Linked DNA regions of Homo sapiens: regions 2, 3, 4, 5, 6 and 7 are each reported to be linked to region 1. Evidence: microRNA targets listed by miRTarBase, many of them from high-throughput screens and not tested one by one. Region 1 holds a microRNA gene; each other region holds the end of a gene's coding sequence.

Region 1 (4,670 bases):
ACTCCCCATGATAGGTATTACTCCCCATAATAGAGCAGGAGGTGTACACCCACCCTGCGATATTGTTCCTAATATTCAGAGGCGGAGAGGTTGATATTACTCCCAATATCGCAGGAAGTGTACATCCCCGTGTGAGATGGTCCTTAATAATATTCCAAGGCGGAGGGGGTGATATTACTACATATATCGCAGAAAGTGTACACACCCCAGGGATATTGTTCCCATGATCCTGGAGGGAAGAGGATGATATTACTTTAAATATCACAGACGGTGTACACGCCCCCACTGATATTGTTTCTAATTTCCACGTGGGAGAGGAGGATATGACACCCAATATCGCAGGGAGTAGAAACACTCCTGTGATACTGTTCTGAATATTCAGGGAGGAAGAGGATGATATTACTCCCAATACAGACGGGTGTACACCCTCTGTACACGGAGGGTGTACACTCGTCTGTGAAATAGTTCATAATTTCCAGAGGGGGAGATGATATTACTCCCAATATCGTAAACAGGCTGTGAGTCCACCGTGGGTCGTAATAACCAGGATGGGAGAGGGGCTGGCTTTTACTCCCCGTATGGTGGGGGGTGCCTCACCCCTTTGCGATGTGGGTCTTAATAGCCGGGGAGGGGGGGGGAGGGGCTGGCTCTTACTCCCCGTATTCACCCTTATCTGGCCCCACCCGCATCCTGCTGATTGTTCCATTTTACAGAGAGCTGATTGGTGCATTTACAAACCTTTAGCTAAACACAGAGTGCTCATTGGTGCGTTTTCAGTCCTTTAGCTAGTCACAAAAGTTCTCCATGCCCCCACCTGATTAGCTAGACACAGAGTGCTGATTGGTGCGTTTACAAACCTTTAGCTAGATAGAGTGTGCTGATTGGTGCATTTACAATCCTTTACCTAGACACAAAAGTTCTCCAAGTCCCCACTCCATTAGCTAGACACAGAGCGCTGATAGGTGCATTTACAATTTTTTAGCTAGACACAAAAGTTCTCCAAGTCCCTACCTGTTCCAGAAGCCCAGCTGGCTTCACCTCTCACTGTCACTCACTGCAGGACTTTTCTGCACCTAGCCCGGGCACTCTGGCAGCCCAGAGCAAGCTCATTCCCTGATCTAGCCCAGCAGGCACCGGCAGGACGCACTGAGAGTGGGGCTCGTGGAGCCTGCACCCACCGGGAACCTGTGTTGGCCCGCGAGCACCACATGCAGCCCTGGCTCCCGCCTGCACCTTTCCCTCCACACCTCCCCAGGAACAGAGGGAGCCGGCTCTGGCCTTGGCCAGCCCCAGAGAGGGGCCCACATGGTGCAGCGGCGGGCTGAAGGGCTCCTGGAGCGCAGCCAGAGTGGATGTTAAGGCGTAGGAAGCGCCAAGAGCGAGCCAGGGCTGCTAACACGTTGTCACCTTTCAATAGTGTCTACTTCTAACCATTTGGAAAATACAATCATGTTTTGTAGTCAATTTGAAGATGACATACCCAGATTTTTCAATAGATTAACAACAGATTTGATAAATTATAGTAGAGTATCTCTACATATCCATTTTACCCCATGTTTATCTGATTTGCTCTTCCATGTTTATTTACATCACTTTTTACTTTTGCATTCTACCCAAGGGTATTTGCTGGAGTAGGTAGGAATGTTAACTCCCATCTCTAATAATTTCTGAAATTGCATGATCCCTAAGGAAAAATATGGTCATGTACTGTACTTCTATATTAATAATGCTTTTTACTTATGGAAATTTGACAAGCCATTGAAGGGTAGAAATGATTAGTATGTTGGATATAATGGAAAGTACTCTCTACTTAACTGATTCTTCATTTGTTTTATTGCATTAAGGGGAATAGAGCTAGCAATGAATTTACCTCTGCTTGAGTTTTATTCCTTTGATCTCTTGCTTCATGGAATCTAGCTCTTCCTTTCTTTTAATGATTCAGTAATTGCTTACCATTCCATTTTTCTATCCTTTGACCTAAGCTAACTAGTTTTTTTCAGTAGCATAACACTACAATAACTGTTATTTCTACTATTTCCCTTTAGAGTTATACAAGTATAATGAGGAGTCCATTGAATTGTATTTTAACTGTATAAATACACAAAAATGTGAAATGTTGAGAAGTGAGTCAAGTTTATATGTTGCATGTAATGTATCATACATAATGTGTTTCTCATCTTAGATTTTCATAGGACAACATCTTCAACCTGTAAAATGATATTTTGAGGAGAGCAGACATTTCAGTGAGTCTAATTTTAAAGTTAGGTGTTTATCTCTAGGGTTGATCTATTAGAATTACTTATCTGAGCCAAAGTAATTCAAGTAATTCAGGTGTAGTGAAACACTTCTAATTTTAAATTCAGAAGCACTGAAGAGTGAGTTGGATTATTGGCTGTAGCACTTACTTGATCCTCTTTCTTATCACCCTTGACTTTTAAAGCCTGGCTTTAAAAAAATATATGCTTCAGAAATTCATGTGCTCACCAGCATTTGATTCATTAATTTTGAAAGACTATTACAAAGGACTCTTAGCGATGATAAGTTTAGAGATACCAAAAACCCAAGTCTGAACTTTGACAATTAAAAGACATGTAAAAATGCCAGAATGAATCATAGGTTCCAAAGTAAATCTTGGGTAAAGGTGACATCATAACAAGCAAGTCATAGGCAAGTCACAATTGCTTTTAAGTCTAAATCCTCACTCAGTGACTTCTTCGATTTAAAGGTGGGGAGAGACTAAAGAACTTTCATTTTGTCAGTGTTACATAGGTTTTCAGTGTATACATTTGAAAGACTTTTATCTTTGTGATTCATTAGCAAGTGTTTCAAAAGGTTAAAGAGAACACAGATTTTATAGGTATCAAACTAAACTTCTATGTGTCAGGCCTCTGAGCCCAAGCTAAGCCATCATATCCCCAGTGACCCGCACGTATATATCCAGATGGCCTGAAGCAACTGAAGATCCACAGAAGTGAAAATAGCCTTAACTGATGACATTCCACCATTGTGGTTGGTTTCTGCCCCACCCTAATCTCCCCCACCCTTACAAAGTTTCTTTGTAATTCTCCTTATCCTTGAGGATGCACTTTGTGAGATCCACCCCCGCCCCCAAAACATTGCTCTTAACTCCACCGCCTATCCCAAAACTTATAAGAACCAACGATAATCCCACCACCCTTTGCTGACTCTCTTTTCAGACTCAGCCTGCCTGCACCCAGGTGAAATAAACAGCCTTGTTGCTCACACAAAGCCTGTTTGGTGGTCTTTTCACACGGACACGCATGAGGCACTATGTGACTAGGCACTTAATGTTGATTTTGGAGACCTAGGGATAAACTTAGTTAACTTTTTGGATATCCTCTTTCCTTTCTCCCTGCCTCCCTCCCTCTCTCCTTCCTTTCCTCTTTCTCTCCTTCTTTCTCTCATTTCTCTTCTTTAATATGTAACAGCATTTAGCAAGAGTTGGGTTAACATTTCTGGCATTATTATAATCACAATTTCCATCCAGTATTCCTTATTGCAGTGTATTTATGTGTGTGTGGTATAATGTGTATACCTACAGATACACACTAATATGAAACATATAATATATAATTTTATACTATGGTAGAATTGATACTAAAAAACACTGTTTAATATTAAAGAATTACTTATAAACTGAGTTTTTAATGCTTACCAAATTACATTCCAGTACTGATGTAAACTGTTTTCAAATGGGAAACAACAAAAAGTTACACATTTTAGTGCATTATTACCAAAATAAAATATATTTAGTTATCTTTGTCTTCCAATTTTTTATAGCTTGCTGTTTACTCTCTACTGTGTTGGCACAGTAGAGATTAGAAATACATCATTATGCTGTTTTACATGTAAATAATTCTGAATAATAATAATTCTGAATAATTCACCATTCCACTGGGGAAACAAGCCAGAAACTACTACTTGATATAGTCCTTAGATGGAACTAGAATTATTACAGGGAGAGGAGAAGGGAAAAAAGGTGACTTCAAGATAGCTAAGAATTTTAAAAAACAGAGAAGGGACAGAACAGCTCTGATGTGTTAGAGTGAGTGGAGAGAGAGCCCTTTTGCGAGAGAAGGGGCTCTTGGACTTGGTGGGAGGCAGTCTGCATGCAGATGGCTGTGTCCCCATCAGGGAAGATTTGAACAATTAGTCCAAGTGGTGGGTAAACAAGTTTCTAAGCAAAGAAAAAATAAATTTAGTTAAATGAGAGGAATAAGTTCAAGAGACCTGTTGCACAATATGGTGACAATGAATTGTATTCTTGAAGATTGCTGAGAGTAGATTTTAAGTATTCTCACTACACACACAAAATAGCTGTGTAAGGTAATGCATATGTTTATTAGCTCAATTTAACCATTCCACAATGTATACATACTTCAAAGTGTTATGTTGTACATGATAAATATATAAAATTTAATATGTCAATTTAAATAAATATGTTTTTAAAAATAAGAAAACATCAACCCTGAAAAAAAGAAAAAAATAAGTCACCAAATTTCAGAAAACAAAAAAAGAAATATGCTAAAAGTAAAGCAATGTAAAGCACATCTCAGGAAAGTGAGTATGCACAGACTTTGGTCCTACTGCATACTTCCACTTCTGCCATTTATTGCAGTCATTGCTTATTGACCATAAGGTTTTTCCCT
Region 2 (4,670 bases), not on the chromosome of region 1:
CCATTCTTAGGCCCAGTTCCTATTGCACCTCCTTTCTTTCCTCATGTTTGGTATGGGTACCCTTTTCAGGGATTCATAGAAAATCCAGTAATGAGGCAGAATATTGTCCTGCCCTCTGATGAAAAAGGAGAATTGGATCTGTCTCTGGAAAATCTGGATCTGTCTAAAGATTGTGGTTCAGTTTCAACAGTAGATGAGTTTCCAGAAGCCAGGGGTGAACATGTACATTCTCTCCCTGAAGCAAGTGTGAGCAGTAAGCCGGACGAAGGCCGGACAGAGCAATCTTCCCAGACACGAAAGGCAGATACGGCATTGGCTTCCATCCCTCCTGTAGCAGAGGGAAAGGCTCATCCTCCCACTCAGATTCTAAACAGAGAGAGAGAAACTGTGCCTGTTGAACTTGAACCTAAAAGGACCATTCAAAGCCTGAAAGAAAAAACAGAAAAAGTAAAAGATCCTAAGACTGCTGCTGATGTGGTCAGCCCTGGGGCCAACTCTGTTGATAGCAGAGTGCAAAGACCAAAAGAAGAGAGTTCAGAAGATGAAAATGAAGTGTCTAATATTTTGAGAAGTGGTAGATCCAAGCAGTTCTATAATCAAACTTATGGAAGCAGGAAGTACAAAAGTGATTGGGGCTATTCTGGTAGGGGTGGATATCAACATGTGAGAAGTGAGGAGTCCTGGAAAGGACAGCCAAGCAGAAGTCGGGATGAAGGTTATCAGTACCATCGAAATGTCAGAGGGCGACCATTTAGGGGAGATAGGAGGAGATCAGGGATGGGAGATGGCCATAGGGGACAGCACACTTGATGGTTGTTGCCGAAGTATTTTCTAACAGAAACTCTTAGGTGGAATGTTTCTGAAGGCTTTAAAAAAAATACAATAAAGTAAAAACCGCAGTTGGAACTCTTTCCTCTCCCCAGCCCCCCTTACCTTCACTCCCATACTGGACAAGACATTTTGGACATGAGTTCAAGGGGGCAGGTTAATTCCTGGCATTGCCAGTTTTCTTCATTCAGAATCTGTTTGTTGATCAAGTGACTGTCCCCGTAAAAAGTAGAAGATAAGTTTGTTAAAGTATTTTTTATAAACAGCTTAATATAAAACATTATAGATTTAGTGTTTGGCTTTTTTCCTTATAAGTTTATAAGTTTGATTTCAGATGTTGGAAATGTGTGCTTTATAGTGTTTACTAAAGTGACAAGAAAATATACCATTTGACACACTATAGATTCCAAACATAACGTTGCACCAAATAGAAATGTATATTTTATTATGCAATGCCTTAGTCATAAACTGGGCTCAAACAATTCTCAGCCTAAAACACTGTTGTCTTTTAAAATGCTTCCAACCCAAAGGCCTTTCATCTCAATATCTGTCAAACTTGAATAATGTCTTCTCTTTAATATTCACATAAGGCAGCCTATTAACTGTGTCTTAGCAATGTTGTATATAGTTCTTTTAATATTCATAAGGTATATTTTTGAATTTTGGTATTTGTTGAGATTGCATAGAAGAATAGTAGGAAATCCAATGAAATGGCTGTTTCCACCAAGAATTCTTAGCACTGGTGTAAATATCATGGTGCCTACTCGAAAGAAATGTAGATGCTATGCATTTTGAAAATAATCTGCATCAGTTAGAACTGCAGAAGTTTTTTTAATGCCACTTTAACACTAATGCACTGACAGATTCTAAATATTTTGTGAGAAGAAATGTTAAAAATTTTTAGCTTGACAGGTTTCTAGAGTTGTTTTCTTCCTCCCCCCCCCCCCCGCACCATTGGTTGTGTATCACTTTCACTTTACACTTGCATGTTCTACTTGTCAGGGCTGGAACTATTGTATAGAAGATAATATGATTGTGACTTCTAGTTCTTTTCTAGAGGATGCTGCTAGAAAATGGTTTTGCTTTGTATTTTATAGCTTGTTACCCTTAGGTAGGTAACATCTTACATTCTGTTTTCTTCCAGTCTTTGCAGTATTCACTAGAGGTTCCCTTTGCATGTTGCACTCTGTTCTCATTTGGAGATTGAACTCTGAATTAACACAGTATTCATTCATCTGTGTTATTTTGTAAAAATAACTGTAGCTTATATTCTTTATTTGTGCATACCAATGTGAAAATCCACTCTTTTATTATGTTGAGATTATCTTCTGATCAGGAAGTTTGAGTGCTATGCAAATAACATAGTAGTAATTTCTCTTTGCATGCCATGTGTAATATACCTAGCCAAAACCAGATGCGGTGACTTTCTTTTTTTGTAAAGCAAATTACTTAAGAAAATACAATTCACTTGAATTTGACAAACTGAAACAGATGGGTTTTCTGGGTTCTCTGATAACCTATGGGAATGTTTGGATGCCAGTTGGGCTAGTGAATCGCCACTGTACTGTAATAATGGTTATTTACCTCTGTGCTGTTTTAATTACCTAACGTCTGTGTAACTGCTGATTTGAGTAGTGATTAGCATTTAGATAATGTAACAGGATTTTAGAGAGCACTTTGAAAGATAACATTTTATTATGATGGTGCTAGGTAAAAAATTGTAAAGACTGGGATGGTTGTGTGGAAAACTTTTCTTGAGAGAACCTATTGAAAGGAATTTGTTGTCACCTTCTTAACTAGAATAGTTGTTGAAGGTACCGCTTAAGCCATTTTTTTCTTAACATCGGTGGCTCAGTTAAGGAATGAGAAGATAGAGGGTCCTCCACTTTCAGCTCATGCTTTTTTATGTAGGACTAGCTTACCTGATTTTAATGAAAATCACATTTTGATACAAACACCAGATTTGAAAGTTCAATGTGTTTGATCTCAGGAGTCCAAAATAAGTTGTTGCTTCTAGTGTCCTGCATTTTATTGACTGGGGTTTGATCTCAGCTTCTGAAAATGTTTAAAAATTGGAAGGAAATACTACTCATATCTTCATTGTCACTTTGTCTTACCTCAATTGAGTAACAGAATATAGCTCCTGAAGGAAACACTGATTTGCTTTCTGTTTCCCATATCTCACCTCTAGGATATGATGGAAGAAGTGCTTGAAAGAGAATTTTAGCAGATGGTACTTTTCTCAGTGACCTCTGGAATAAAAGAACTGACTTTTGATAGTTTTAAAATTAATCTTTGCATGAAGGTTGGTTTCGCTTTTTTTCCTTTAAGTTTGTTTTTAAATGTATTAGTCCAGGGGATTTTGCCTTATGCTGAGGTCAAACTAAGGATAAGCAAGCTTTTGTCCTTCATTTTAACTGTTATGTCATACTGTTATGTTGACATATTTCTTTATAAGAGAATAGAGGCAAAAGTATAGAACTGAGGATCATTTGTATTTTTGAGTTGGAAATTATGAAACTTCACCATATTATGATCATACATATTTTGAAGAACAGACTGACCAAAGCTCACCTGTTTTTTGTGTTAGGTGCTTTGGCTGAACTTGATTCCAGCCCCCTTTTCCCTTTGGTGTTGTGTATGTCTCTTCATTTCCTCTCAAATCTTCAACTCTTGCCCCATGTCTCCTTGGCAGCAGGATGCTGGCATCTGTGTAGTCCTCATACTGTTTACTGATAACCCACAAATTCATTTTCATGGCAGACCTAAGCTCAGACCCTGCCTTGTCCTGGCAAGCATAGGTTTTCCCAGACCACAATGCTGATATATCTTATTTAATGCAGACTGTATTCTTGCAGCGTGTTGTTTCCTTTGTGACTCAAGGTTGAATTAAAATGCCTGTGAACTGCAAACTTGCTTATGATTGACTTGGTGCAATAAAGTTCCTTTCTAACCATTTCTGGTTTAGAAAACATTCAGCCATCCTAGAAACTAGCAATATTTATTTTTGCCTCTTTCGTTTTACCTTCATTTTTAGATGAGGTAAATGTTTTGTCTTTTACTTAAGGGTACTAAGCAAGGTCCACTCTAGTGTAGCTGAAGAGAATGCATATTTGGCTACACTATTTCTGTTTACTGTATTTTGCTTCCTACTTTATGTCTAAATGCTATTGTTTGTTTAAAATCCTAATAATGTCTCATTTCCAATATGTTATTTTCAGATAACTAAGGTTTTGCTACTAATGTCAGCCATTTACTCTCCCACTAATTGGGATTATTTTTTAAAAGAGGTCTTTCTCCCCGAAATACAAGTTTTAGAAAATCTTAGAAGAGGGGTGGGTGCATGTCTTAATGCTGGGAAGCGGCAACTTTGGGGTTGAACTTACTTGAATGGATTAAAAATTGCATTGTGTTACAGAGCTAGAAAATTTTATGTATGAAAAACGATAATAGCCTTACACTGAGTACAAATAATACTTTAAGAGCATGTGAAGATGTGATCATTTGTGATGTTACTTGTAAAAAAAAGTATATATACATATCTTTTGAAGTGTTAAAAGGAAACTAGTACTTTATATTCTTTATCATATCACTTTTTGTAAGTGTTGAATATATTCCTGTTTATTTTTCTATGTTCTGTTTTGTAGCCTTAAGAAGTGTTTCAAACATATCTGAATGTATAAAATAAGAGTAAATGCCCTACATGGTGTGATGCTGCATTATATATAAAACTGTGTGCATATATTAAATTTTGTCTCTTGATTCTGCTTGTGATTCTTTGGTTCCAGGGTTAACCAGGTAATATAGCATGTAGATCTTGAGAATTTTTGTAAACTCCTTAA
Region 3 (4,604 bases), not on the chromosome of region 1:
ATTATCATTTAAACTGCTGTTTTTATCCTGCATCAATCAGAGCTATTCATTCTGGTTACTCACAGACCCTTGGGCTGAAACCACACTAAATCAGGGTCACAGCCAGTGTGAATGTATAAGGCCACACGTTTTACTCTGCAAGTGTTAATGACCTGGGCTGAACAGCAATGGCAAGTTTCCATGAAAAAGTCATCTGAGATTGTAATCTAGGAATAAATGGTTCTGTATGGAGCCTATTACCTGGTTTTTAATATTCTGTATTCAAGGGGACCACAGCTGTAAACAACTCTTCACTCCCATTTCTCCATGAAGTTAATTTGCACTGTGTCAGCACTGCAGGCTTTTTGCATATGTTCAGGACAAGCTGATATGAGCAGGCCTGGAATGAGTAATGTTTAGTAAAATCAATAAACCCTATTATTAGTCACTAAGGGGACTGATTTTATGTCTATAAAAGTAAAACAATTAGAATGTATTAATGGCAGATTCATCATAGTAATATAATGGAGCCAAGTACACTTGTCTTTTGGGAATCTTTAATTTACCACTCGGTACTGACTATATACTCAGCCAGAGAAATGGCACACGTAATATAAATAAGCCCTGGCCTTTGGCAATTCATGTTGTCATCAGCAAAGACAACACTGTAACAGTAAGAGGAAGAAACAAAACTTCATTTAGTGATTAATGTAAACCAGTCACGAATAATGTTCCAGTAAAAGCCTAGGGGAAGAGCCTATTCAAATTGCAATGTGCTTTTGGTCATATATCTCTTTGTATTTATCAGCATTCCTGTTTATTACAGGAGCAGAGTTAAACATGGTCCAATGCAGCTATTTATAACCTGTTTACTTAACCACCTAATTAGAAGTGATTTTAAAAAGCCTGCTATGTAATAAACATACATCTAGTCATTTTGCAGCTGAAAGGTAAGATTGGCTTCCATATATATTATTAAGAGCAAGAAAATCATCAGGAATCCACAGTATCACCCAGCTACCAACAAGAACATGAAAATTCAGCTAGTGAAGATGTAAGTTGACCTTAGTTCTGCTTCTGTGCTTTGACAGTTAAGGGGTTGGTTAAGAACTGGATCAGCATGTAGGCAACCAACAGATACCCTGCCAACTATAGTCTGAACAGAGAAAACATACTTGCTTAACTGGTATAAGACAAATTACCTCAAGTCTTCAAGGATAATCAAGATGTCGTATAAAAACGAAAAAGCGTTGATAGCTTAAAAATGATGAAAAATATGTGAAATACTCTTATGTATAGGATTAAACACCACAAACGATATTTTTATAAATAACAGCTTGGATGAAATTCAAAAGAAAAACTGAAAACTAACAGAAAAATATCTTCTTACTGAAATCTATTAAGAACATAGACTAGATGTGTAAGCCAAGCAGCAAAGGCAATACTCTAAGGTGGTCTTTCAAAATCAAGGGAAACATTTCTTTTTGATTGCAAAATTCTATTCATTTCTGATGCAAAGGCCTCTAGGTAGAACTAACCAAATTATACCAAGACAAATTCCGTCAGCTTAAAGAACTTTTTAGTAAACCACGTGGTAGCACTGTCATTAGCAATTATAGTAAAATAATAAAAACTTACAGCTGGAATGGAGCACTGAAATCAACCAGTCCAAACATACAAAGCACACTCCCACCTTGGGGCTTCGGTACTTGCTCTTCCATGTCACTGCAGTGGTGTTCCCCCAGATGTCTGCATGGATCCCCCCCATCTCTTTAGTGGCCACTCTGTTTACAGTTACAAACTCCAGCACATATTCACTATGCCCCACTCCCATGCTTCATTTCTCTTCATTGCATTTATCAACCATCTAACATGCTCTATATATTATTCAGATATTTTATGATATGTTTATCCCACCCACCAAAAAATGAAAGCTCCATGAAGACAGGAATTTGTGTCTGCTTTGTTTACTGCAATATGCCAGAACCCAGTGCAGTGCTTGGGATAAAGCAGGCACTCAGTAAGTGTTTGTTCCAAGCAAAGAAGGGAGAGAAGAGGCAGTTAAAATTTGGCATAAAATATTCTAGTAAATCAATGTAATGACAGCTAACTGACTAAATGACTTTTTACATATTTTTCCTGTTATCCACATGTCATAACATTTGCATCTTTGAAGTATCATTCCATACCATAGAAACCTGTATCTACTAATTTCTAGTGATATCGTGCTCCATGTTTAGGGTAAATACCCTGTAAATGGGAATACATTCACCGAATTAAACACACTATTTGGTTGTTATACCTATGTATCCTATAAGAAAAGTTAATATCTGTTTACTGTATCTTATGCATTGGATATTAATAATATTAAGAAACCCTTCTTTGAAAATTAGAATGACTATCAGCCAGGTAGAAAATAACATGAGACAGACAAGAAGCCATTATTTAAAAAAAAAAAAACTTTTTAATTCTGATTGCCAAATTATTTAAGGCAGGTATAAAAAAGGAAAGCATTCAATATACATTTTACATAAAATAAACTAGATTACAGCATAAAACAAGTAACCAGGCAATGGCGTTAAAGTCTCTCTCTTCTAAAACTGGATAATTGTAAACATTAAAAAAAAAAAAAGACTGTAGAACTATTCAAGTAATAGAACAATCACAGATGTCTCTGGTACGCAGGCTATTGGGTTATTTGCCATTCAAGATTATCAAAAAATGACACCTCATTATTCACAGATGCTCATTATTTCCCCATTTTAATCTTTACATTATATACAACACAGTTTTTGTGGTACTGGCAACCCCATGCCTTCCAAAAGTACTTTTTCCACAATACACAAGTACAAACAGTGACTACAGGAACATTTTACACTGGTGCGTCTTTAACAGGAGCCACCAAATAGACATCTAAATTGTACCAAAGTGTCATCATCACAGTTAGCCTTTCTGAGGGGCTTATGGGAAATATGTGAAGGATATGCAAGGTTCAGGCACACTGATACATAACATTATTTATTTACAATTTTAAAGGAAAAGGAAAAGAAAGTAAGTAGCCTTTTGTGGCTAACACTTTTTAACATGACAAATACATTTTTAATTTCCTTTACTGAGTGGTTTGCGACGTGGCAGCAGACCCTGTGTGTGCGAGCCTGGTTACTGATACAAAAAGTAAAGAATATATTTATATTTATATATATATATATGTATATATACAGATATGTATACGTATATATATATAAAACAGAAGTTTAATTACAGCAACATTTGTTACTCTGTGATAAAATCTGTAATTTACAAAAATGAAATGACTGGTTTTTGCCTGCCATTAAGGCATTTCAAATTAACACCATGGAACTGATGTCTGTATAAAGCGCTTCCCCATGTGATCCAGTCACATGACAATGTACATGTCCAATCTTGTTATTCTCTGCAAAAGAAAAGCAAACCTTAGCACACGGTTCTATCAACATTTTGTTTGTTTGTTTTTTGAGTCGGAGTTTTGCTCTTGTTGCCCAGGCTAGAGTGCCATGGCTCAATCTCGGCTCACCGCAACCTCTGCCTCCTGGGTTCAAGTGATTCTCCTGCCTCAGCCTCCCGAGTAGCTGGGATTATAGGCATGTGCCACCATGCCTGGCTAATTTTATGTTTTTAGTAGAGAGGGGGTTTCTCCATGTTGGTCAGACTGGTCTCAAGCTCCTGACCTCAGGTGATCTGCCCACCTCGGCCTCCCAAAGTGCTGGGATTACAGGCATAAGCCACCACACCCGGCCAACAGTTTTTTTTTTTTTTAGTTTTGAGACAGAGTCTCACTCCATCACCTAGGCTGGAATGCAATGGTGCAATCTCAGCTTACTGCAACCTCCACCTCCTGGGTTCCAGCAATTCTCATGCCTCAGCCTCCCTAGTAGCTGGAATTACAGACGCACACCACCACGCCCAGCTAATTTTTGTATTTTTATTAGAGATGGGGTTTCACCATGTTGGCCAGGCTAGTCTGGAACTCCCGACCTCAGGTGATCCACCTGCATGAGCCTCCCAAAGTGGTGGGACTACAGGCATGGGCCATCATGCCCAGCCTCTATCAACATTTGGCACTGTAAACCAGAAAACCATAAGACCGATAGTCTTATTTTAATTCCATTCAAATGTGGAATTCAATTCCAGAGAAAGTGAATAAACATAAAGTAATGATATACATTGTGAAAAATATTAATTTTATAATATTAATAATTTAATTCCTTTAAATCATTTTCCTTCATAAAACTTAGGGAATAATTTAAAATATCAAAGAACAAACATTACCTTTAGCATTATGAAAATAAATGTCTCCATTTGCGACTTTATCTTTAAACATAATAAAACAAAGGGAGTCATGGTGAATTATTTTAGAAATGCCGTAAGGATAACCCAAGAAAATTTCAACTGTCTAAAAAACTAATCAGTTAATTACTAATCTATGTAACCCTTACAGAATGAGGTTCATGGAATTTAAGTTGCATGTGAAGCAACTTATATTGGCATAATAAACACATTCATTACAATGATATAAAACCCAAGGAGTTAAGTTTTTGGTCTAAAAATCCTGTACTTGCTTCCTCCCAACCATTAAGATATTTCTA
Region 4 (4,598 bases), not on the chromosome of region 1:
GTACCCTTTCCATGACATTGAACCCAGCTCCCTCTTCAGCAAGATCCGGCGTGGCCAGTTCAACATTCCAGAGACTCTGTCGCCCAAGGCCAAGTGCCTCATCCGAAGCATTCTGCGTCGGGAGCCCTCAGAGCGGCTGACCTCGCAGGAAATTCTGGACCATCCTTGGTTTTCTACAGATTTTAGCGTCTCGAATTCAGCATATGGTGCTAAGGAAGTGTCTGACCAGCTGGTGCCGGACGTCAACATGGAAGAGAACTTGGACCCTTTCTTTAACTGAGCTCATGCCCCACGGAGACTTAGCAGGTTCCAGGAGTGAGCGAGGGCAGCGGAAAGGAGTTCTTCCGGGGGACACGAATTGCCTGGCTGAGTAGCAAGAAAGACACACTCTTAAGTTTCTTGGTTCAGAGCAGGAAAACCTTCAAGGAGCTGACTGACCACGTAGCATGGGGGCAAGAGGCGTGGGATGGGGATTGGGGTGAGATGGATGGGAGCCCGCTGGAGCTTGTCTTCCCTAACATAGCCTGGGAGACCACCCCTTGCCACTTGGGCCACTTCCGCCTACCCCACTTTTCATTTTGTTCCAAAATAGTTGCAGATCCTGACAGAATCAAAACTCTCTGCCTCAAACACACATCCTGGCATCGCACTGTTAGCATTTAACTTCTTGTTAGGATTCAGGGAAGGAACAGTTGGCCAAGAATTTTTTTTCTTTTAAACAAGCCAACCACCTAGCTGGTAATTAATGAGGTTCACTTAAAAAAAAAATTCGGTGCACACAGACTGACATGAAACCTGGGTGCTACAGTAAAAGAAAACAAAAGTCCAGTTTGTGTCTCTTAATCGCTCACTTCAACTCATTTCTTCTAAATAAACTATTTAATATCCTGGTCAGGAAATGACATGTTAATGCTTTGCTCCCTGAAGGGGGAAAAAATCTGTCCTTTAACAAGCTATTCTGTTTTGTGTCAATTGGTTCGTGGCAGGAAGCTATTAGAAGTCAAACGTCCAGATGCATTACTGCTATCTTAGTTTAAAGGGGGAAAGAAAAGGGAAGAAGAAAGGAAAAGAGAAATCCAACTCCTTTTTCATGTTTTGCTTTTGAACAATGAGGGTTTGTGTGACAGGCATTCCTCTTTGCTGAGATGATAGCAATGGCCTGAGATTTTAGCAAGCTCCTGGAGTCTGATGCTTTTGCAGTACTCTGATCGCAACTAAACATTTGTCTTTGTTTTATTAGAAACTAGTGAAACAAAGCAGGTTGTCCCACATGTATAAAATACAGGGCAGCTATTTAGTTTTCTTTACAGAGAATGATCCTTTTAAGGCTTGTAAGGCCCTCTGGTTTGGACAAAAACCCTCAGTAGAGACAAGCGGGAAGGATAATTAGCTGAAAGCTATGATGATATAAATAAAAACAGCTCTCTATCCCAATACGCACCTTTGTATTTTCAAGAACTCTTCTATTTATTAAGGAAAATGTCACATTGTGATGTATTAAGCCAGTACTTCAATTACGGGTTGACTTGGGATGACATATTACATGCTGTAGTTAACATTTATAATTCTTTTTCCTTGTTTGAGTATTTCTGTCTCTGAAATAACCTTTTACTTGGCTTTTCTAGATAGCTTTATTTGATTTCGAGTGGCAAAATGTTTTTTATTACGGCTTTTCTATTGCTGTATGATACAGAACTCTTTTGGCATAAATATTTGTGTTCCCAGTACCTCACTTGTTCGGATTTGACTGCCTGTATATGTTTTGTGAAATGGTCCTGTTTTTGGGTAGGTGACACGTGGACTCTAGTATGTAAATGTTACTTGAATCTGTGCTTCATAATAGTGTGTGGCATGTATGTGCAGACTCTTGGATGCTTTATGCCTGCGCAGCAGGAGCCCTGTCCTCACGTTCCCAGGAGGGCGGCTTCACCCTTCGTAACCAGGAGACAAGGCGGCCATGGATTTGCCCTTGATTCTATTTTGCTAATGGAAGATAGAAAGGAGAGAAGGTTTTTTTTTTTTTTAACATTCTGAAGATGGTGCTGTGTCAAGAAGGACCTTTTTTTTCCCCTCTCCCCTATTTTTTAAGTACCTTGGAGGAGGAGAGGTTGGTGACATGCATGGTGGGGATCTATGGCCTCTGGTGCTTTGTCCTGTATTTGGTTTAATGTTTTTGTCCTAATCTCTTCAATCAATAAAATTGTGCGTATTTAACTAAAATGCTGGAGTCTGGAAAATGATGATTTTTTTGCCACCTGTGCTTTGTGGTCACCACACACCGGGCAGAAGCTCACATCTTACAGGCATTTGCTCTTTCAGGGTGAGCCACTGCTACTACTTTTAAGACATGGAATCTCCCTTTCATCGTATTGGGGCATATGCTGTCCAATCTGGATGCAATAGCTCACACTGAATTAATCGTCACAACAACTGTAGGTGACCTAACTTACGTTCCTAATACAGATTAGGAAATAAACCCAGAAATGTGCATGCCTTGTCCAGGGTTAAACTTGTGAGTGCTAGGCCCAAGACTGGACCCCATGTCTGGTTAGCCACAAAGCTTGTTTACTCTTTCTACAATGTTAAGAGTCCAGATGTTCTCAGGGAGAGTGTAGTAATAGCTCTAGAGTAACCAGGATTACGTAGGGCACAAGTAATCCAGGCCTACACATGGTTTCCCCAGGAAAAGCCCTGTGCTGCAAACTTGAGTGGAACCCTCCTAGGAGACCACCCAACTCCCAGCAACAACATCTGCCCAGCAGCCCTTACTTGAGTCTGAGATCCGCAAATATCAAGGTTGCTGGGGCTCGATAGACAGTCGCATCCGTAGTGCACCTTACTTAACAGAAATAACTACGGCCCAGAGAAGCTCAATTCTCTCCTGAAATGTTTGCTAAGCACCTCTGTTATTTCAGTGTGTGCTGGGAAGAGACATGGAAACAGACAAATGCAATGAGTAGAATCAAGTGGTGGGGTACACACACGCAGGATTGATGGAAGCCCATCAGATGGACAACTCCTGTCTAGGTCCGTCAGAAGGTGTCCTGGAAGGGGTAGCACCTGAAGCAGAGTCCGGAACGAAAAGAATTTAGATAATAAGAGAGACAGCAGCAGCACTCTATGCAGGGAGGATGGTGTGAGAAGTATTTAGAGACTTATCCCAGTTAACACCATGAATGCCAAGCCCTGGATGGAGTTCATAAAAGATCTTGCAAAGACTGGAGTTTGTGGTTTACAAGAGGATGTGGCTGAAGCAGAGGCTTCCTGGCCATTTGGACCAGTCTTCTAAATTCACAAAGTGCTTATTATTCAGTGACATCCCTTCTGTGTCCTTAGCACCTGGCTCAGCAGCAGACACCTGACCCAGTGCCTGGCACATGGAGGTGTTCAGCAAATAACTGTTCATGGATATAATTTGTGCCAGGAGAGGGTGGCCTCTATATGCTCCAAAATTTCCTTCCAACCCCAGGTGTCTAAGATGCACATTATTATAACAGGAGCAGACTTTGTAAGTATTGACACCTATCATTGGCTTTTGCTAGGGCACATATAGGCTGATCCAATTTTTTTGTTCTTTTCCCTGCCTGTGATTAAGCAGACATGGGTCTGTTGCCTAATGAATGCCCGTTTGAATTGTGCACTGTCGACCATTCGCCTGTGTGGTTGCTGGGGGCCGGGGGTGGGTTGCTGGCATGCACACCCCAAGCCACTATATAATGAGCTTCCACCGCGGTGGAAACCCAGACCCAGCAAGCTCCTGCTCCCTTGCCCTCTGAAGACTTAGCCAGTAGAAACCTTTCATTTTCTAATCCCCTTGGTGATAAGACACTTTATCCTTTTTTCTACCAATCTGGACCTGGGGCAGGTCAAGGGGCCTGGGCCACAGGAATGAGGGCAGAGGTGTGGCGAGGTAGCAGGCCTGGGCTCTGAGTTTCTACGCTGCTGTGAACTACTTGCCTATTATGAGGACCAAGGCTGTTGGGAGGGTCGACTGAGCTAAAGTGTGTGAAGGGCTTAGCCCTGCCTAGGCTGGAATAGCGACTGTTACTATGATCAGCCACAGGGATTCCAGGGCAGAGTTCTTTTGACTGGGCAGTGGTACCGGAATGGAGGATCTATTAGGATCCGTCAAACACAGGTTACAGAGACCCTCCCCTGCTGCAACCGAAGCAGCTCCACTTTTACCAGTTTTTACATATTAGTTGTTATGTAGACTTTTAGGAAGGAAAATGAGAAGTTTCGCTTGTATATATGTGCTATGGTCTGAATGTTTGTGTCCCTCCAAAGTTCATATGCTGGAAACTAATACCAAATGTGATAGCATTAAAAGGCAGGGCCTTTTGGAAGTAAGTCATGAGGGTTCTGTCCTCATGAATAAGATTAGTGGCCTTATAAAGGAAGTTGAGGGGAACTGCCTTGTCCGTTCCACCGTGTGAGGACACAGCAAGAGGCACCATGTTGAAGCAGAGAGTAACCCTCAACAGACACTGAACCTGCTGGCACCTTGATCATGGACTTCCCAGCCTCCAGAACTGGGAGAAATACATTTCTATTATTTATAAATTACATAGTCTAAGGTACTTCATTGTACCTTACAC
Region 5 (4,610 bases), not on the chromosome of region 1:
AAGACAGGGTTTCACCATGTTGGCCAGGCTGGTCACAAACTCCTGACCTCAGATGATCCACTCACCTCGGCTTCCCAAAGTGCTGGGATTACAGGCATGAGCCACTGCCCCTGGCCAGTTATACATTTTAAAATAACTAAAAGAGTGTAATTGGATTGTAACACAAGGGATAAATACTTGAAGGGATGGATACTTCATTCTCTATGATGTGATTATTTCACATTGCATGCCTGTATCAAAACATCTCACGTACCCCACAAATACGTATACCTACTATCACCCACAAAAATAAAAAATAAAAAAAAATTAAAATACAAAAAGAAAATATGAAGGCATGAGGAGACACTGCCTCATTCATTATCTTTGTTGACTTTTACCCACTACAGGAAATACAACCAGAGTTCTAGGCCTCCAGTTCCAGACTATGTTGTTTCTGACAGTGGGGAAACAAAGGAATTTGGGTAAGAGCTCTCTTGCTTAAGTAATAAACATGAGCCCAACACGATGGTTCTTGTGGGCATCTTGAATGTGCTAATTGAAAGTAATATGACAAGTCTGTTATTCTAAACCAGGTTTCATGTGTGTAGAGTTGTTGACGGTTCTGTTATTTTGTCATTATTGCAGGGATGAAAGTAAGCTTCAAGATAAAATCTTCATCACCCAGCAAATTGCAATATCAGACTCTTCTGGTGAAGTGGTGCTACCCACTATTCCAAAAGAACCTCAGGAGTCTGACACAGTAAGGAGTCTGTATCTAATCAAACAATGTATATTGTTGTCACCCTTCCCCATGTCGCTTCTTGCTAAATCACGGTTATTTTCTCTACTAGTTGAGAGACTTCAGGGATCAGTGGAATGAGTAATAAATAGCATTAGTAGATTACATAAATTTTTAAAGCAATATCCGTACAAATGCATATTATACTAATGCAAATGCAAATGTGTGCCTCTTTTTGTGTAGAAACCTATAGGTTGCCTTTTGAAGTAAACAGCCTAGCCAAAATGTGTACTATCTTTTACGTAAGAGTAAACATAGTGACCTTGTGACTCTTAGCTTTCCATCACAGGTGGGAAGTCAGAGTCATTACAACCTAGAGGACAAAGGCTTATAAGGAGATATGAAATGATTTTTTTAAGCCAAGTTTTTCTCTTTAAGAGTTTTTAATTTATAATTTGTTATTCATAATTAGTACAATGTAGAATCTGAGAAATTTCAAATGAAGCCACATTAGAACAAAAAGAAAATACTGACTTTTTAGCCGCGATCACATGAATATAACTGATGAGTTTTTTTCATCTAAGAAATAAGAAACTCTGAGCAGCAAATAGTTGGCCAGATGAGTTGTTTCTAATTAGAGCATCACAGTTCTGATTAGTGTGTTTTTTTAGAAGTGATTTCCCTTAAATATAAGGAAAATGTTAGGAATCTCTGTGACTACATTTAATTCCACTTGGAATATAGACAATAATGACCTTTTATTTAACCCAGCCTATAGTTGTTGGATTGGATTAAATATCACTACCAGGGCCAGGTGCGGTGGTTCACGCCTGTAATCCCAGCACTTTGGGAGGCCGAGGTGGGCGGATCATTAGGTCAGGAGATTGAGACCATCCTGGCTAACATGGTGAAACCCTGTCTCTACTAAAAGTACAAAAAATTATCCGGGTGTGGGGGCATGCACCTGTAATCCCAGCTACTCGGGAGACTGAGGCAGGAGAATTACTTGAACCCAGGAGGTGGAGGTTGCAGTGAGCCGAGATCGTGCCACTGCACTCCACCCTGGGCAACAGAGCGAGACTCCATCTCAAAACAAAACAAAACAACAACAAAAAAAATCACTACCAGTTGCCAGCTGTGATAAGAGCTAAAACAAGGGGTACTGTAGTCTCAAATTATAAATTTCTATTGCCTCATATTTAGGAAAGCAGAAAAAAAAAAAAAAAAGGCCCAGTAGGATCATAAGTGTATTTTACAAAAGTTCCAGTCACCTTAAGTGATTGAAGGTTTTGACATTTTATCCAGCCAGGTGGTAGTAATAAGCCTCAAATCCACAGGGTACACAACATTTTCAAGGTCTTTTTTTTTTTTATCATACTTAATTCATGAATAACCCCCATAGTGTAGGTTAGTTAGCACTATCAAAGTGACTGGTAAGGACGCAGGAAAATAAAAAGAGGATTCAATTGGATTGGTACTGCAAAAAGAATCCATTCTGTTCAGCACATGAATTTCTGTTCTGACCTTAAGTTTAGATATATCAAAGAAACAAAAAGCATAGAGGCGGCTGGGGGTGGTGGCTCACACCTGTAATCCCAGCACTTTGGGAGGCCAAGGCAGGCAGATCACCTGAGGTCGGGAGTTCGAGACCAGCCTGACCAACATGGAGAAACCCTGTCTCTACTAAAAATACAAAATTAGCCAGGCATGGTGGCGTATGCCTGAAATCCCAGCTACTCAGGAGGCTGAGGCAGGAGAATTGCTTGAACCCGGGAGGCAGAGGTTGCAGTGAGCCAAGATCACGCCATTGCACTCTAGCCTGGGCAACAAGAGTGAAACTCCATCTCAAAAAAAAAAAAAAAAAAAAAAGCGTAAAGGCAGTTGAACTAATGGCAGAAGAAGACTGTCAAAGCATTTTTTTTTAACCACTTTATGTCATGGAAAGCTTCGAAATTTCTTAGGCCCAGTTAATTGCTCTACATGAAGAGTTCTTCATTAAACAAATCACTAATTAGAAATACAGGCAAGAGAAAAGAATATATAAAATTTGGCAAGTAATAGCAGGTTAGATTTGCTTAAGGCAGGTGTCTTACCCATTTTCATGGTTGGAACAATCCTTGATTTCTGGGCCTAAAATAACTTTTGAAATAATTTTCTAAGAAAATTATTTGCATCTGGCTGGGTGTGGTGGCTCATGCCTGTAATCCCAGCACTTTGGGAGGCCGAGGCAGGCGGATCACCTGAGGTCAGGAGTTCGAGACCAGCCTGACCAACACGGAGAAACCCCGTCTCTACTAAAAATACAAAATTAGCTGGGTGTGGTGGCGCATGCCTGTAATCCCAGCTACTAGGGGGGCTGAGGCAGGAGAATCGCTTGAACCTGGGAGGCGGAGGTTGCGGTGAGCTGAGATCACGCCATTGCACTCCAGCCTGGGCAACAAGAGTGAAACTCCATCTCAAAAAAAAGAAAAAAGAAAATTATTTGCATCTGAATTAATGGCTGAAGTATTAATTAATGATTGCTGAAGAGAACCCTGAAACTTAGTACTTGGCACATATAACAAAAAGTTGATTTATCCATTGCTTACTGAGGTATCCTTGAGAAGTGATCTTAAGCAGGAGCAGTGACAATGATAGAATTAATAGTGGTCATGAATTACTAGGAAACAAAGTGGCATTGAGCAGAAAAGAAAGAAGCTGTTGCCACAACTTTGGGATATATAAAAATGGATTATATCTTGTGTATTGTGGGATAAAAGAGGGGCTAAAGAAAACTTTGCAGGAGGTCTCTCCCAGTGGCATTTAGGTAGCGCTATGTTTGAGGATCAACCAAAAGCGGTGAGTTATTTCTGTCCTGTTTCCCCATCTAAGAGTTCTTCTTGCAATTATTGGAACATCTTCTTTAAAAAATTTTTTTTCCCTTTTCTTTTTTTACTTTTTCAATTTTTTTAAATAATAGATACGGGGTTTCGCCACGTTCTTCAACTCCTGGGCTCAAGCAATCTGCCCACTGTGGCCTCCCAAAATGATGGAATTACAGGCGTGAGCCACCGCGCCTGGCTGGAACATTTTCTTTACATACACTGGCTTTTCTCCCCTTCAAATCATCAGAAAATGGGATAATTTTTAGAAATCAGGTTTAAGCACTACTTTCAGATAAGCATTTCATAGTTACAACAGTTACCTCAAAATAGAAGTATGAAGAGCAAGTGAGAAATCTGGTTTCATTGTTACACTAGGCAGTTCCCTATAGAAACTTTGCGGGGGTTAATAGTCCTGAGGAAGATTTTAGTTACAATGTATTCCAATCCCATCGATCTGATCTGAGCAAAGCTGACAAATGAAGCTGGTCAAAAATAAAGGGAGATTACTCAGGATGGAGTCAGTCTTAAACAAACTTGTTTCTAACGGCCCATGGTAGGCATGACAACAGCAGGTGAGGAAAGAGTAGCATCTTCTTCTTTCCACTGAGAAGTAATGGTCTTTAACTGAGTGTAGAATTGGATGCCCTAAGGAAAACAGAAAAAAAGTTAGCATATATTTCTGGGGTTTCATGATTCTTCTTTTAATTAGCTTTTGAAGGAGGTATTATAAAGTGCTACTCACTTTCCTAATTGAGAAATGCAATCAGAATCCAATATATATTGTTCCTAAGATAATTGATCTAAAACATTTAACATAATACCTGGCAGATAGTAAACAATCAAACCTTAGCCATCATTATTATGCTGAAACTAGTATTTCTTTCTTTTTTGTTTGAGATGGAGTCTTGCTCTGTCACTTAGGCTGGAGTGCAGTGGCATGATCTCAGCTCACTGCAACCTCTGCCTCCCGGGTTCAAGCAGCTCTCCTGCCTCAGCCTCTCGAGTAGCTGGGATTACAGGCACCTGCT
Region 6 (4,670 bases), not on the chromosome of region 1:
GACTGAAAGGGCCCCCACCATAAATCCCACATGATTAAGCTGAAATTCAAATTCAGGCCTAACTCAAAAGCTTGTGGTCTTTTTATGGCAACACATTGCCTTCCCTGAGTGAGATGTTAGAGGTGATCTAGCCCAGGTCTTAATGATAGTGGAAGACAAGGAGGAAAGAGGGAACGTTGCTGGGATTTTTCTTGAGAAATTCTCTTGACTGGTCAGTAACTGAAGTTTTTCCATGCATTAAAGCTATTACAACTAATAATTACCTGTTAGAAGGTGGGAATGTGGCACTTTCTTGACTAGGTTTTGAGGGAATATTTCTCCTAAGGATTTATAACATTTAGGATTTAAAAAACTGTTCACTTTCCAGAAAGTGAAACTAGGGGGGAAACTTAGAAAAATATGTAGCCATAAGTTTGGGTGAGATTTTAGACTGAAGTGTGGAAGCTCATTCCAAATGTGTTTTCCAGATTTAGCTCTGGTACCCAATGTATAAATTCCTGCTTACCTATGTAATATCCTGCCTATCTATGTGCCATTTGAAGTACTGTAGTCGTGTAAGAATAAAAACAATGGTTTGAGGTCACAAACTCAAAAAGGAATGAGTACAATCTATTCTTAACTACCTGCATTTATCAGAGAGTATCAATATAAATAATTAAAAGTAGTTTAAATACTAAAAACTAGATACTCTAGTCTCCTTTCCAGCCAAGCAGATAAAAAAAAAATCTTGAAAACTGCAAAGTGACTCCAGTTACATCTATTATTCTTTTTTGTGAATGAGACCACTACTACCAGGGAAAGGTCCCTTAGGAAGGAAAGAGCCTCATAAAAGGTCACTTCAGGAAGGGGAGAGACTTCAAATACAGGCATTTAGCAGGTTGGTGCTGATGGTTCCCTTGGGAAATAGAATGGTAAAGTGGCAATGGGATGCATCTTGAGCTTAGAGAATTAGGTACCAAAGGCTGATGTCTCCAGATGTGAACTGTCTTATTGTCTGGAGAGAAGGCATTTTCCAGATAAAGGTATGAAGGTTGCCTAAGAATTCTGAATTCTGAACTAGAAAATACTTCCCCTTGACCTCTCTGTCGCCTTAGGTTCTCAATCTGAACAAAAAGATACTAAGCGGCAGAAACACCCTGAGACTTAGCCTCAATGAAGCACTGGATGCCTTCTCTGTTAAGCATCTCAAGCACTGTTAAAGATACTGTGTTGTGATGCGAAACAGACATTGGACTAGGAGTCACGGCAGTCTTGGGTTTTAGCCTCAGCTGTTCTTGTTCAGATCATTCTTTTCTGTGATTATTTATTTAGTTATAAAATAAGAGGGTTTAAAAAGAATATTACATTATGGTTTTTCTAGCTTTTAAGATTCAAAAGCAGAATGATTTTCACTTAAGTTTTAACTTGTTTTGTGGGGATACTGGCAAACATTCTGTCACCTAGTGGTCAATTTCAGGTTTTGCAGCTAGGGAATCAAAGAAATCAGCTGTCCCACCAAGCAGCTACTCTTAGGGATGCTCAATTTTAGGAACTATGGTTTTATTCCAGGGGCCAGATATCAGTAGCTGCAGCAGAGGAGAGAAGGACAAGTGCTCCCTGCTTAGAGAGGACTGGGTGACTACCTGGTTGTCCTGGTTATCAATTAAGAGGAATCTTGCCTCTCAGGATGTCTCTGGAGACATTCATGGGTGCCTAACTACCAACAAGTTGTCAACTTCCCCAGGTAAGCCAGGTAAACTAAACCTGAAAGTGGTCAGATTAGGAGAATGACTGCTAGAATACTCAAGTGATGAAAGAAAAGTGATCCAATGAGGTACTGAAGATGGATATACCTAACCCAAGGTCTCTGGACACTCCACAGAACCCAACTGTTAAAATACATAAGATGAAGTATGGATGAATCAGAATCAGAGGTAAGCCTGGCCTTCAGATTCTAGAGAAGGCTTTTGTTTCCCCAAGTTAGGGTGGAACCCATGAGCTGAAGCCTGTGAAACCAGAAGACAAGAAAAGTATTTCAGCAGCCAGTGGTCTATGTAGGGAAGAATATAGAACCTGTGTCAATTGGGCCAAGATGTCTTGGATTTCAGACACTCTTAAGACTTTGTACTTCAGGAAAGGATAAAAGATTAATCTGAAAAGGGATGGGTAAGATCTCCTGGCAAAGAATGGGAGTCCCAATTGGAAATGGGGAGAAATGTGGAGTGTATGCATTTCTAAATACTGAGCACAAGCAAATGGTCCTCATCAAGTAGGGTGGATTTTGCCCAAAAATAGTATTATTATTTGTTCTATTATTTTTAAGCATGAAAAATGAATTTAGGGTCAGCTATTTAGAATTTGGGAATGCACTCTATGGGCTGATTTTCTAGCAAAGAGAAAATGGATTATGATGATGTGCCATTTTGGGACAAGTTTGCTGACAATCTTAAATGTCTCCAGAAACCACTCATGTTATTTATGAAAGACCCAATAATTCTGCATTGAGAATGCAAATTAGGACAGAAGACTGTTGGTTATCATTTATCAAAGGTTTTCATGTTGCTTTACAAATCCGGAATGGGTGGTTGTAAGTTACTTTCTCTAATTTGTTTTCGAAAAAGTCTACCAGCCCATTCCCTCAGACATTCAGGTTTCCATTCTTGAGACTACTATTGTTCTCTGGTGTCAGAGGAAAATCTGCCAAGCTCCAGAAAGTAGTCCTAAATAGCATAGATAAGATATAAGATTCAGCTTCCTTTCCTAGACAAAGAGAAAAATAGCAGTGCTTATTGTGCCTACATTTTCCTTTACCTCTCACTTACAATATATCATTCAAGTGATATAAGAGAGAGATGGGGTAAACAGCATCCTAGCTGACTCAGACATCTTGAGGGGAAAAGGAAACTAAAGCATTCCAGAGTGTGTGGTACTTGGTAAAGTAGAAGTCTGAGTTCTTGCCCCATCGACATTCAACAGACTGAAAAACTGGGGAGGGACACAAACTTTACAAACTCTATGATCTGAGGTAGGGTGAATAGTTGTCAAGTCCACCATTTAGCTTCCATTTTGGAGATCTGATATATTAGAAGAGGAGAAGAAACAGGCAGGTTTACATGCCATTTAAATTGGTATATAGACCATAAATTAGAGATACGAAGCTGTAATTGATAAATGAAGATAATAAAGAGTATGTTTTAAAAATTAGAGTATATTTAAAAAATTCTATTAATATTTTAGTGTCATTAAAATTGGGAGTGCACAGATTATAAATTCAGAAAATATAAAATGTACATGAATTTCTCATATTTTTACCTAACAGACTGTCTGAGAATAAAATAAAAATGAGTTTTGTGAAATCATGGCCTCTTTCAAGATCATGTCTAGTAACATGGTCTCACTTGAATGATTTGTCAACAAGTGCCATCAGAGGTCAGTGAAAATATTCTCACAATGGATGGAAATTTAAGCATTAAACAAGCATAAAGTTTCTTCTCACTTCACATATGAAAACAGTACATGTACAGAAATTTACTTATCCTGACAAGTAATAAGCTCTGATACAAATAAGCTCTCACCTTCCCTAAAAGAATAATGCCTTGTTCTCTAATTCAATTCCACATAAGATTAGTTGAAAAATGAACCTGATATCATCTTTTCTTGATGTCACTCAAAGTCTGATCACTTGAATATTAACTCAGACTCCACAATCTTAAAAGTAGCACTAACATACCAGCTTAAATGCCCAGAAGAGGAGTGGGTTATTCTTTTCAACTAGTATATCCTTCCTTAGCTTTGCCTGGTGAGCTCATCTTCCAGTTCAAACATTACTTCACGTTTTAAAAACCTGTACAGAACTTGAACTCTTCAAAGGGTGGGGGAGGGTTCCCTCAAAGGAAAATTGAGTTGTTTACCAAAAGGAGGAATAAAAGAAGTAGGTATTTGTCTCATTCATCTAGGCTTCTCCACTGTAACCTAGCATTGTATGTGGCACATGAAAATTCCTCAGTACTAAGTGAGAGAATTACATCAGATGACTCTTTCTGTGTCTTCAAACTTGTCACATTTTTTCTTTGGTTCCCACTTATGTTTGACAAATAGACATGTATTTTTTAAACAGTTATCTACCTTTTTTTCCAAAAGAGAAATTCTCCCATTTCAACCTACTATCTCAATATAACTGGATAACCTCATCCCACTCAGAAATAGGCCAGATTCCATTGGGTTGCACATTGGGAGGAGAGCGCTTCCAGTCCCACGTCTTTACAGGAATCTTCCAGGTCTTACCATAGTTGGCTTCAATGTATTCGAGGGTTTCACAGGGTACATGGACCTTCATGTCTACAAACTCAGTCCAGCACAGTGTAAACTTCGGAAACAGGTATCTGCAGCAAAACAGAGGGATTAGGCTTCAACAGTGGAAGAAGGTCTAGCTAAGGAATCTAGCTGCTAGTGCATTATTGGCTGAAGGACAGTGCTCTCCCATTACACAGCTTTGGGAAGAGAGTGGATATTTAATTATTTTTGACTGTCCAGAATCCCTTTCCTCTTCTCCAATTTTCCTTTCCTGTTCCAAGCTCATAGGATTGAGGAGAGGCTGACCCCATCACTAAGACTCAGGCCAGTAAGTTAATGATTGAGGCAGGGATGGGAACATACCCAAGTCAGGCAAATCAAAGTCAGCCTTGGGCTTT
Region 7 (4,670 bases), not on the chromosome of region 1:
TTAGTGCATTACTCGAGAAGCCAATTAAATGCTCACAGTTTCTTGTAAGGACTATTGAAATTATATTTGCCTGATACACAGTGATTTTAGTAGAATTAAAAAATAAATCTTAGCCTGCAAATTGATGAAATCATTCAAAGAAATAACCTGATGAGAGAGTTCACTGTTTTTTAAGCTATCTATCTAATTTTAGGATATATATTGATACTCTTGTAATACAATTAATGATTCACATTTCACTGCTTATTGTCAATACAAGGAACTTTCACCTATTATAAATTTCAACTTGTTCATTTGGATAAGATTTTTAAAGTTAATGCAGCTTATATTATATTGGAATCAAAGTTAGTCCAGTATGGTGAAATAATCTTATATTAGGACCTTAAGACCTCACAAAGTCTTGTATGTTCTGTGTGTTTTGGCTGCAGCCCTACCACTTATGTCTTGGATGAAGATGAACCTCGATTCCTTGAAGAAGTTGATTACAGTGCAGAAAGTAATGATGAGTTAGATATTGAGTTGGCTGAAAATGTAGGAGATTATGAACCTTCTGCTCAAGAAGAAGTACTTTCTGACTCTGAATTATCAAGAACATACCTACCTTGAGCCCGCTGCCATCTCTTGTTAACTGCAAAGAATAAATGAAATATCTTGGTTTTTATTTCCCAGGAAGCTTGAGAGAAATGAGTTTATACAGAGCTGACTCAAAAAGACAAAAAGTAACTTGGGCCAGTTTGGTTTCAAGATAATAAATGTGTTATTAATTAATGATAAAATTGGCGCTTGTTTTATTTTCGATATTCAATGCACTTTATGTAGCATTGAATGATCAAATATTGGATTTACCTTTAAAAAAAAAACCTGAGTATCATTGCATGAATTTTTATCTCCCTATGGTTATATCCTGCATCAAGTGGATAATTTTGAAGTGTGTTCAGAATATAAAATTGAAATTTTAGAGTTGTTGAAAATCCTGACTTGTTGAAAACTAATATATATGTACATGGATTTCTATAGATGTGTTTGTTTAGAAGTGGGTAGATATTGCAGATAAGACTGTTCTTCAGAATCATGTTAACTATTGGGTTGTGACTGAAGTAGTCCAGGGTTTGCCTTGAAACCATTACATTCTACATTTACCAAATTAAACAAATAAAAACTGTATTAAATGTTGCATTCATTTTGTCATCTTCTTTAACCAGCTCAGATTATTTGATGTATAGAACTTTGTGAGAATGTGATAAAAACCCAGAATTGGACACAGTGATAAAAAGTTGTTTTTAAGAAAGTTGGCTGGGCATGGTGGCTCATGCCTGTAATCCCAGCACTTTGGGAGGCTGAGGTGGGTGGGTCACTTGAGGTCAGGAGTTTGAGCCTGGTCAACATGGTGAAACCCTGTCTCTACTAAAAATACAAAAATTAACCAGGCATGGTGGTGGGTTTCTGTAATCCCAACTACTCAGGAGTCTGAGGCAGGAGAATCACTTGAACCCAGGAGGCGGAGGTTGCAGTGAGCTGAGATAGTGCCATTGCACTCCAGCCTGGGTGACAGAACGAGACTCTGTCTCAATTTAAAAAAAAAAAAAAAGCCGAATATACTACTGTTAGATTTTGTTATGATAGAGGTATACCCACACCTATCATAAGAGATATATCTGAACAGCCCATTTCTCTAATACTGTGCCTCACGGATACACCTAAAGTATATCACTGCAGTTGAACAGTTTGTTAAGAAGCTTGAAAAATGCAGTGAGGAGATGATCTGATGTTAAGTGTGCATTTGTCTATTGAGCTTATTCAGCATCTCGAGCTGTGCTGTGTTATTAGACTTACTGAAGTGAATGGACTTAGGGCATGCTGACGCTGGTATCAGAGTCCTAGATGACTGCAGTACATTTAAACCCTTTTTTTGTTTGTTTGTTTGTATGTTTGTTTTTGTTTTGAGACGGAGTCTCACTCTGTCACCCAGGCTGGAGTGCAGTGGCGCAATCTCGGCTCACTGCAACCTCTGCCTCCCGGGTTCAAGCGATTCTCCTCCCTCAGCCTCCCAAGTAGCTGGGATTACGGGCACCCGTCACCACGCCCAGCTTATTTTTGTATTTTTAGTAGAGACAGGGTTTCACCACGTTGGCCAGGATGGTCTCGATCTCTTGACCTCGTGATCCACCCGCCTTGGCCTCCCAAAGTGCTGGGATTACAGGCGTGCGCCACCGTGCCTGGCTAAATCCTTTCTTGTAATGAAACCTACCTGGGTTTTAGCCCTCTTGCTGCAAGAATGACTTTATTTTTAAATAAAATAAAGCAAATCCATTGACTTTGGATAAGTGTTTTAAGAACTAAGTTTCTGATATAATAAAACAACCTCCAAAAGATACCTCATTGCAGATTTTCGCCAGGATTCAGGTGCTTAGGTTTTGGCACATATCTTCCTCACTTTTTCCTATAGTGTTTTTAACCTGTTATAATTGGAATGATAGAGATGTATTTCAGAATTTTGCATGGTCCAAATCAATGATTTTTCTTTTTAATATGTAAAGTATTTCATTAACAGTGTAGATTCTTTCTGATGTTTGGGGAGCCATGTTTAAAAATGTAGTATGGAGCAATTGAAAAAGGGGTCTTTTTCCCTAGCCTAATTCTTACTAATCTCAGAAAACAAAGATCAAATAGACTGTGAAGTTGAACTAGTCCTCTTAGTGTAGTAACCAAATTTAGGAAAGATCAGGATAATTTAGGAAGGAAAGTAATCATTTATTTAATTATTTATAATTATAAACAATTATTTTATGTTTTGTATATTTTATGTATAAAACAATTACATGTTTTATTATAGTTATACTTCTTCAGAGAGTAGATTATGGAGCCACCATGTCCATACAGTTAGTTGTTCCTTGGTATTCTTGGATTGATTCCAGGACCCCCCACAGTTACCCAAATCCACAGATGCTGAAGTCTCTGATATAAAATGGAGTAGTATTTGCATTTAACCTATGGACATCCTCCTGTATGCTTTAAATCATCTCTAGATTACTTATAATACCTAATACAATATAAATATAAATGCTCTGTAAATAGTTTTATTGTATAGTGTGTGTGTGTGTTTTAAGAGACGAGGACTCACAATGGGACACTTTGACCAGGCTGGTCTCGAACTCCTGGGCCTACACAATCCTCCCACCTCAGCGTCGCAAGTAGCTAGGACTACAGGTACTCACCACTATGCCTGGCAGTTTTTTAAATTTGCGTTTTTAAAAATTGTTTATTATTTATTGAATATTTTCTACCTGAGATTGACTTAATCTGTGGATATGGAACCTATAGATATGGAGGGCTGGCTGTATATGAATTTGTTTTTGGCTTTTACAAAATTAGAAATTAAAAGTAACTACAGTTACTATAATGTGCAGAATGACTCAAATATTTCCATTTATTATGTTAGTGTAAAAACTCCTAACTACGTATTATAATATTTTATATTAATGAAGTACTTTAGCATACATTATGAGCCTGAATAAAGCTTTTTATTAAATATTCACAAGATTGAAGGAGAAATTCTTTATAGTTAGGAAATGATTTTTTCATAAACAATAAATAGCTTTGAAAATATAAAAAAAAATTTAGGGCTGGGTGCAGAGGCTCATGCCTGTAATCCCAGCACTCTGAGAGGCCGAGGCGGGTGGATCACTTGAGGTGAGGAGTTCAAGATCAGCATGGCCAACATGGTGAAACTCCACCTCCACGAAAAATACAAAAATTAGCCAGGCATGGTGGCATGCGCCTGTAATCCTAGCTACTTGGGTGGCTGAGGCATGAGACTCACTTGAACCTGGGAGGCAGAGGTTGCAGCAGTGAGCCGAGATCAAGCCGCTGCACTCCAGCTGGGGCGACAAAGCAAGACTGTCTCAAAAAATAAAAACAAAAAAATTAAAATAAAATCCTAACTTTCCTAGTTAGAAATATAATTAACTTTTATTGGCTATTAGTAGCTAAAATTGCCCTTATTTTTGCTTCTGTGGCCTCATTTTTTTTCTCGGTTATTCAGTATTTAAATTATGGCTTAGATGTCTTCAATGCTATAGTCCTAAAAATTAATGATCTACGTTGTGCAGCAGTGATGGGATCTGATAAACTGAGTCTGATGATGGAGTTTAGATTTATTTCCTTTACCTTGCATTTGGAACTTTGAATCTCTTAAATGTGGTTTTGGTCTAGTCCACTGGTTCTCACGTTGTAATGTGCATCAGAATCTTCTGAAGACACAGATTGCTGATTATGTAGACCTGGGGTGGAGGTCCAAGAATGTGCATTCCTTGCAAATTCCCAGGTGGTGATGCTGCAGAGCCACACTTTGAGAATCACTAGTATAATCCAGTATGCTCTTCCAGCATCACACCTTCCTTCCTGAGAATCACAGGAGTTGTGAACTGCAGATTAGCATTGGGGAGAATTTAGATCAAACTAATTTGTAGAATCAAGGAGGTCAAGTAAGGTCACAGGGGCACTTGGGTTGAGCCAGGGTTTTAGCCCAGGTCTTCTGACAACTGCCTCATGTCCTTACCACAAAGGAGCTGCTATCCTTTGCCTTTCCCCAAAGAGTGAAGACTGCTTAAAGCTCAAGGATCTTTCTTGAATTTGTGAAATTTGTTCAGGCAAGGTGAAAAGCAAAAACC

What was found. Region 1 holds the annotated microRNA hsa-miR-1297 (UUCAAGUAAUUCAGGUG, at 2,318-2,334, shown strand). A microRNA usually pairs through its seed, bases 2 to 8, with sites in the 3' UTR of a target mRNA and lowers its output. Matches are read on the target gene's strand: a 7mer-m8 pairs with bases 2 to 8, a 7mer-A1 pairs with bases 2 to 7 and ends in A, and an 8mer does both.
Region 2: the mRNA of OTUD4 is a reported target of hsa-miR-1297. Seed matches in the 3' UTR shown: 7mer-A1 at 1,383-1,389, 7mer-A1 at 2,295-2,301 and 8mer at 4,212-4,219.
Region 3: the mRNA of ZNF608 is a reported target of hsa-miR-1297. Seed matches in the 3' UTR shown: 8mer at 2,625-2,632.
Region 4: miRTarBase lists TRIB2 as a target of hsa-miR-1297. Seed matches in the 3' UTR shown: 8mer at 1,819-1,826.
Region 5: the mRNA of ALDH6A1 is a reported target of hsa-miR-1297. The part of its 3' UTR that is shown has no 7-base or 8-base seed match.
Region 6: the mRNA of FKTN is a reported target of hsa-miR-1297. Seed matches in the 3' UTR shown: 7mer-A1 at 2,811-2,817 and 7mer-m8 at 2,245-2,251.
Region 7: miRTarBase lists AGTPBP1 as a target of hsa-miR-1297. The part of its 3' UTR that is shown has no 7-base or 8-base seed match.

The regions. Positions count from the first base shown.
Region 1 is chr13:54,309,645-54,314,314 of GRCh38, reverse strand. It overlaps MIR1297 (microRNA 1297), which reads left to right and starts at 2,267; the gene lies at 2,267-2,343.
Region 2 is chr4:145,133,570-145,138,239 of GRCh38, reverse strand. It overlaps OTUD4 (OTU deubiquitinase 4), which reads left to right. Exons shown (of 21, transcript NM_001366057.1): 21 at 1-4,590. The coding sequence ends at 810. Among named protein-coding and RNA genes, the nearest start is that of ABCE1, 38 kb to the right of the region's middle.
Region 3 is chr5:124,634,495-124,639,098 of GRCh38, forward strand. ZNF608 (zinc finger protein 608) reads right to left here. Exons shown (of 10, transcript NM_020747.3): 10 at 2,421-3,412. The coding sequence ends at 3,406. Among named protein-coding and RNA genes, the nearest start is that of ZNF608, 110 kb to the right of the region's middle.
Region 4 is chr2:12,740,515-12,745,112 of GRCh38, forward strand. TRIB2 (tribbles pseudokinase 2) reads left to right here. Exons shown (of 3, transcript NM_021643.4): 3 at 1-2,220. The coding sequence ends at 280. Among named protein-coding and RNA genes, the nearest start is that of MIR3125, 5.4 kb to the left of the region's middle.
Region 5 is chr14:74,056,520-74,061,129 of GRCh38, forward strand. ALDH6A1 (aldehyde dehydrogenase 6 family member A1) reads right to left here. Exons shown (of 12, transcript NM_005589.4): 12 at 328-4,227. The coding sequence ends at 4,123. It overlaps BBOF1 (basal body orientation factor 1), which reads left to right. Exons shown (of 12, transcript NM_025057.3): 10 at 387-461; 11 at 625-739. Among named protein-coding and RNA genes, the nearest start is that of ALDH6A1, 26 kb to the right of the region's middle.
Region 6 is chr9:105,634,742-105,639,411 of GRCh38, reverse strand. It overlaps FKTN (fukutin), which reads right to left. Exons shown (of 11, transcript NM_001079802.2): 11 at 1-4,361. The coding sequence ends at 4,148. Among named protein-coding and RNA genes, the nearest start is that of TAL2, 25 kb to the left of the region's middle.
Region 7 is chr9:85,543,045-85,547,714 of GRCh38, reverse strand. AGTPBP1 (ATP/GTP binding carboxypeptidase 1) reads left to right here. Exons shown (of 26, transcript NM_001330701.2): 26 at 429-1,176. The coding sequence ends at 606. Among named protein-coding and RNA genes, the nearest start is that of AGTPBP1, 200 kb to the left of the region's middle.